Linked DNA regions of Homo sapiens: region 1 is linked to region 2. The links come from fine-mapping of genetic effects on gene expression. A gene starts in region 2. The other region holds a variant in brackets. All regions are shown on one strand. Distances are between the middles of the regions. Region 1 overlaps EIF4B (eukaryotic translation initiation factor 4B). Region 2 holds the start of SPRYD3 (SPRY domain containing 3).

Evidence for each region. PIP is the estimated chance that this variant, and not a neighbour inherited with it, causes the effect.
Region 1: its variant is fine-mapped to the expression of SPRYD3 in whole blood (INTERVAL, PIP above 0.99). The same link has a PIP of 0.9 or more in esophagus muscle, fibroblasts, lung, lymphoblastoid cells, prostate and skeletal muscle.

Annotation. Positions count from the first base shown.
Region 1 is chr12:53,007,923-53,010,838 of GRCh38, forward strand. The region is part of intron 1 of EIF4B (eukaryotic translation initiation factor 4B); the gene reads left to right. Among named protein-coding and RNA genes, the nearest start is that of EIF4B, 2.9 kb to the left of the region's middle. The variant A/G (reference allele first, on the strand shown) is at 1,299.
Region 2 is chr12:53,078,042-53,080,957 of GRCh38, forward strand. SPRYD3 (SPRY domain containing 3) reads right to left here and starts at 1,349. Exons shown (of 11, transcript NM_032840.3): 1 at 1,270-1,349. The coding sequence starts at 1,292. RefSeq lists a silencer at 1,050-1,329.

The DNA of each region.
Region 1 (2,916 bases), 70 kb before region 2:
CACTGCTCTCAGCTGGCAGAGCAAGGTCATAATCTTTGAGACTCCTTAGCAACTTAAAAGTATCAAGGTGTCATCATCAGTTTAGGACGCTGCCCGAAAGCATCTGAAGTTTACAAAAATGTTCATATTTTTTTCTCCAGTGGGCTAGTAAAAGTCCTAAATATATTTTAAACTAACCATTGCTTAAAGTACTTACTTGGTCTGGATTTGCCACCTTAACAGTTTAGTATCGTAATTTAGTGAAGAAAATCTGTGTTTTCTTAACTTTTGTGTAATTTTTAGAGGCGGAACATAGGACAGCAATTCATGTCCTTCGTTTTACCGAGTTGAGGGAAATCCAGACTGATAAAAGGGATTTACTCTGACGTCCCATTCTCTTGTTCTTCCATATTTACTCTACCCCCTTGAAAACCCTCATCTCCTTTAATTCACTTCAGTAAATCTTTTTAGCTGGTACTGGTATCTGAGCACAAGTCACATCTTTCAGTCTGTTCTTGAGGAATCTGGGGTTTATCGGATTGTTTCCCCGCTCCTCTTTCCAGTCACACTGGCTTTGTGAAGTAACCAGTATTCCCTGATGTGGGAAATGGATGTTATGTGTTCTGTGTGAAAATACATAAAACAACTTCATACGCCTCTTTTACTGTTAAATGAGACCAAAAAATTCTTTGCAGCAATACCAGTTTCCAGTGTGATCCATTATTGACCTTCAAGAACTAAGGTAGGTCTCAGAACTAACTATAGAATGAGGATAGTTTGAATTCCTAGAAACTTGATACATTGAGCCAGTACACTTAATTCCTTGCTTTGCTTCTTAAAAAGAATTCTTAAAGGCCGGGCGCGGTGGCTCACGCCTGTAATCCCAGCACTTCGGGAGGTCGAGGCGGGCGGATCACTAGGTCAGGAGTTGGAGACCAACCTGACCAACATGGTGAAACTCTGTCTCTACTAAAAATACAAAAATTAGCTGGGCGTGGTGTCGCGTGCTTGTAATCCCAGCTACTCCGGAGGCTGAGGCAGGAGAATCGCTTCAATCTGGGAGGGGGAGATTGCAGTGAACCGAGATTGTGCCATTGCACTCCAGCCTGGGCAAAAGAGCAAGACTCCATTTCAAAAAAAAATCTTAAAAATACGAAGTTTTTCATTTTTCTTAAATTTTCATTGTGACTACTTTAGTAGACTTGCCAGTAATAAGCCAGTTACCGCTTGAATCTCAGTTTCTTTATCTGGAAAGTGGTCATTATTTATCTGCTGTCCCCTTACCTAGAGGGAATCAAATGCGTTTGATACAGGTTAAC[A/G]TTTAAAATGCTTTCAAATTGGGCAGGGTGCAGTGGCTCATGCCTGTAATCCCAGCACTTTGGGAAGCTGAGGTGGGTGAAACACCTGAGAACAGGAGTTCGAGACCAGCCTGGCCAACATGGTGAAACCCAGTCTCCACTAAAAATACAAAAATTAGCGGGGTTTTGGGCTGGGCGTGGTGGCTCACGCCTGTAATCCAGGAGGCAGAGGTTGCAGTGAATTGAGATTGCACCACTGCCCTCCGGCCTGGGCGACAGAGCGAGACTCCGTCTCAAAAAAAAAAAACAAAAACAAACTTTAAAATTGGAAATAACATATGTAAGCTCATGCACAGGCCTTTCATTTCCATAATGCTTCAAAATGCAGTCCTGTGTGACATCTTATTTGATTATTTTTATAGGGAGAAGATGCTCTGCAGTGGTTGTTTTCATACACTGCTGACTCTCACAGTGAAATGGTTTTAAGGGGTGCCATTATATATTGCTTACAGATTCCCTAGTGTCAAGTTCCATCCTCTATCATGTATATGTTATTCTGTGAGTAAGATACCCAGAAGGCCAAAATTAAAACTCTTTATGAAAGTTTAAATACAAATACAGAATAGTGTCAATTAAGATAAAGCAGTGTTTCTAAGTAATGTCATTGAAAAAAGAGGTATATTTCATCTCAAAACATTCTGGAATTCTCTTTTCGTGATGGTAGAGGAAATAACTGAACTTGAGTACAGTATTTTAAGTAATTATTTGTAATTAGGTTTGCCTTATGTACATTTATGAGCCAGTTTCTTAAATTTGTAGTAGATACTGCTATGGTCCTGATAGTGGGAAAGTACCAAATCAAGAAGTTTAACTTGAATTTGTGTACCTCCTGTCTCCCATTTTGTGTAATGGTTAGCATGGCATGCATTGGGCACTTATTTTGTTTGATTATGTATATGATCAAATTGAGTATCCCTGGAGGGATAAGGAAAAGGTAGTATGGCATCTTCTGTCAAAATGAAGTAATTGGGCACAGAGAGGTCATGTAACTGAACCCGTACGGGGGTCAAGATGGTGGAGCTTATGAGTTTTGACTCAGTCTTTACTATGCTAAACTTACCCAATCCCCAACTAAATCAAAAGGTGGCTTGCACTGGGATCTTTTTGACTTTACAATGGGTTTATCCGGATAGTAAATGCATTTTTTTACTTGAGAAGGGTTTATCCTGACAGTCTCATCATAAGTCAGGGAGCATCTATATAGTGCAGTAAAGGTGAAGGTGAAATATTGTATTACATTGCATGAAATGTCTTTTCATGGCTGGGCTGTAAACACCAATATAATTAGTCTAATTCTAGGCACTCTGGGTGGATCGATTGTGTTTATGCAATGTTGTTGGTTTAGGGAAACATTTGTTATTCATTATTTAAAGTAGCTTTTGTTTTGTTTGTTTTTGTTTTTGTTTTGAGACAGAGTCTCACTATGGCTCAGGCTGGAGTGCAGTGGCGTGGTCTCAGCTCACTGCAATCTCCACCTCCTGGGTTCAAGCGGTTCTAGAGATGGAGTTTCACCATGTTGGCCAGGCTGGTCTCGAGCTCCCGACCTCAGGTGATCTTCCCACCTTGGCCTCCCGGAGTA
Region 2 (2,916 bases):
CAGGTGTGGCAGCATGCACCTGTAGTCCCAGCTACTAAGGAGACTGAAGATGGCTTGAGTCTGGCAGGTCAAGGCTGCAGTCAGTTCTGATTGTGCCACTACATTCCAGCCTGGCTGACAGAGCAAGACCCTGTCTCAAAAAAAAAAGAAAAAAAAATGCCATGATCCTGGGCCTGGTGGCTCACGTCTGTGATCCCAGCACTTTGGGAGGCCGAAGTGGGAGGATCACAAGGTCAGAAGTTGAAGACCAGCCTGACCAACATGGTGAAACCCCATCTCTACTAAAAATACAAACAAATTAGCCAGGCGTGGTGGTGCGCACCTGTAATCCCAGCTACTCAGGAGGCTGAGGCAAGAGAATTGCTTGAACCTGGGAGGTGGAGTTTGCAGTGAGCCGAGATCGTCCCACTGCACTCCAGCCTGGGTGACAGAAACTCCATCTCAAAAAAAAAAAAAAAAGCCACGATCTTAATCAGTTCCTAAAGATCATTCCAGCTGCTGGTTGGAGAACTGATCACAAGAGGATCAAGAACAGATGTGGGCAAACAATTCAGACGTTGTTGCAGCAGTTCACATGAGAAATGACATCCACTAAGTCGGTAGCAGCGCCGATGGATGGGGGTGGGATGATCCAGGTATTTAAACAACCATCAGTCCCTACATATAAATGAATGAATGATTTTTCCTGGGAGCCAAAAGTGAGAAAGAGGTGAAGTACTCTTCTCTTCCCATTCCCTAAACACTGGGACAGGGGTTTTCTTGAGGCCTGACATTGCCTTGCACACGGTAGGTGCTTAGTAAGCCTTGGCTGGGCTGAATTTGATCCCAATACGCAAATTACGACTCTTATGCAGTAGCTACAACCCACCACGTGGCCCAGAAGAGTAGGCACCTGTGGGACAGACAGCCCTAAGATTCCACTCCCGGGCACTCAGCCAGGACTCAACCCCAGGTAGATGCTGGTTGCGCAGACCCCACAGTCTTGGCACCGGCGAGTGGCGGCCCTACTGGGCCCTGTCTCCTCCCCGGGCACGGCCTGATCACTGAGATGAGACCCGGGAGCAGCCGGGCCCCAGCCCATCCGTGTGCCTACGCCCAGTCTCCCCAGGCCCTGCACTGGGCCGAGGGTGCAGCAACAGAAGAAGCCCAGTGACCAGAGCGCAGGGCCCCGCCCCTGGCCCCAGAGCCCCCGCCCAGGACCCCCGCCTTCCGCTTCAGGCTCCGGGGAGATACGAGGCCTCCGGGACCCCGCCCCCGATCCCCGCCTACCGGGGCCGCCGCGTCCTCCTCATCCATAGGCCTCTCAGCTCCGCACACAAGCTCTTCGGCCGCCGCCACCACACACATCCGGGTCCCCGCCTTTCCTTCACTCCTAGAGGCCCGCCCCGTCCCCCATCTAAGCCAATCAGCAACGGCCTCTGACGACGGGCACCTGCAGGAGCCAATCGGAAGGCGCAGGCAGGGTGTGGGGCGCGGCCCGGTGCCCTGGGTACCCAGCTCAGGGCCCCGGTCTGGTCAACCCGGCTGTTGCTGGGGTGAGCGAAGGCGACGTGGCAGCGCGGACGCTGCTGGGTGCCTGGGCGCCGCTGAGGCGGACAGGGGGCGGCTCTTGAGCGGCGCCGGGGAGACGGGACGGGCGGAGAAGGTGGCCACGCTCGCACAAACGTTGCGAGTATTACTTGAGCCCTCCTTCCGCGCTGGACTGAAATAAAAGCTTTACCGGAATGTCCATTTAATCCACGGTGCAGCCTTATGAAATAAATCTTATCTCCTTTTTACGGATGGGCCGAAGGCTGGCCTCGATAGCCTGCGCGCTTAACTGTTATGCTGTGTACCCTCCCGAGCTCTGTTTCATGGCACCGCTCGCTCATTATTGGCAAGAACATTCCATTCCAGGAGGAGAGAACTGGGGATGCAGAAGGCACAGTGGCACGAAGCGGCATTCTGTGGAGGAACACAGGGCTTTGGTAGGCTGAAGGAAAGTTAGACTGGGGTTAGAATGTGAAGGGACGAAGACACGAATATTTATTGAACACCTACTAGGGAGTGCCTACCTGCCATTCTGGGGGGTTGGACTCCTAGATGAGGACTTCCTTGCTCCCTTCCCATCACCATATCTCTCTCTTCTGGACGGAAAAGATTCCTCTCCTCTGTAGCACCTCATTTATAATACTTTTTTTTTTGAGACGGAGTCTCACTCTGTCGCCCAGGCTGGAGTGCAGTGGCGCGATCTCGGCTCACTGCAAGCTCTGCCTCCTGGGTTCACGCCATTCTCCTGCCTCAGCCTCCCAAGTAGCTGGGACTACAGGCGCCCGCCACCACGCCAAGCTAATTTTTTTTGTATTTTTGGTAGAGACGGGGTTTCACCGTGTTAGCCAGGATGGTCTCGATCTCCTGACCTCTTGATCCGCCCACCTCGGCCTCCCAAAGTGTTGGGATTACAGGCGTGAGCCACCGCCCCCCGCCATTTATAACACTTATTACCGTCTTGCTTTCGTTATTGGAGTTACTTGTGTGTGTAGACCCGTCTCTGCTAGACTGTGAGCTCCTTCAGACCCCAGACTATTCTATTCTTATCACACTAGGTACTCTAACGTGTTGAGTGCCAGGAAAGCCATCAGCTCGCATACCGTGAATAGTGCCCACTCGGCATAACGGCAATGGGTGATAGGAATAGATGAGATGGGAAACAGAGAAACCCGGATTAGAGCCCCAATTCTGTGTGACTAAAAGGTCAAGGTCTTGGTGTTCTCATCCCTAAACAAGAATTATTGAAGTATGTGTTCTTTTAGCTCCCTTCCAGCCCCTGGATGACTCAGTTCTGAATAGCTACCCTTCCAACTCATCTCCACCTCCTTTTGATTCCCTCATTGCTTCTCCTCCGCTCCTCTTCTTGTGTTATGAAAATACCTCAAC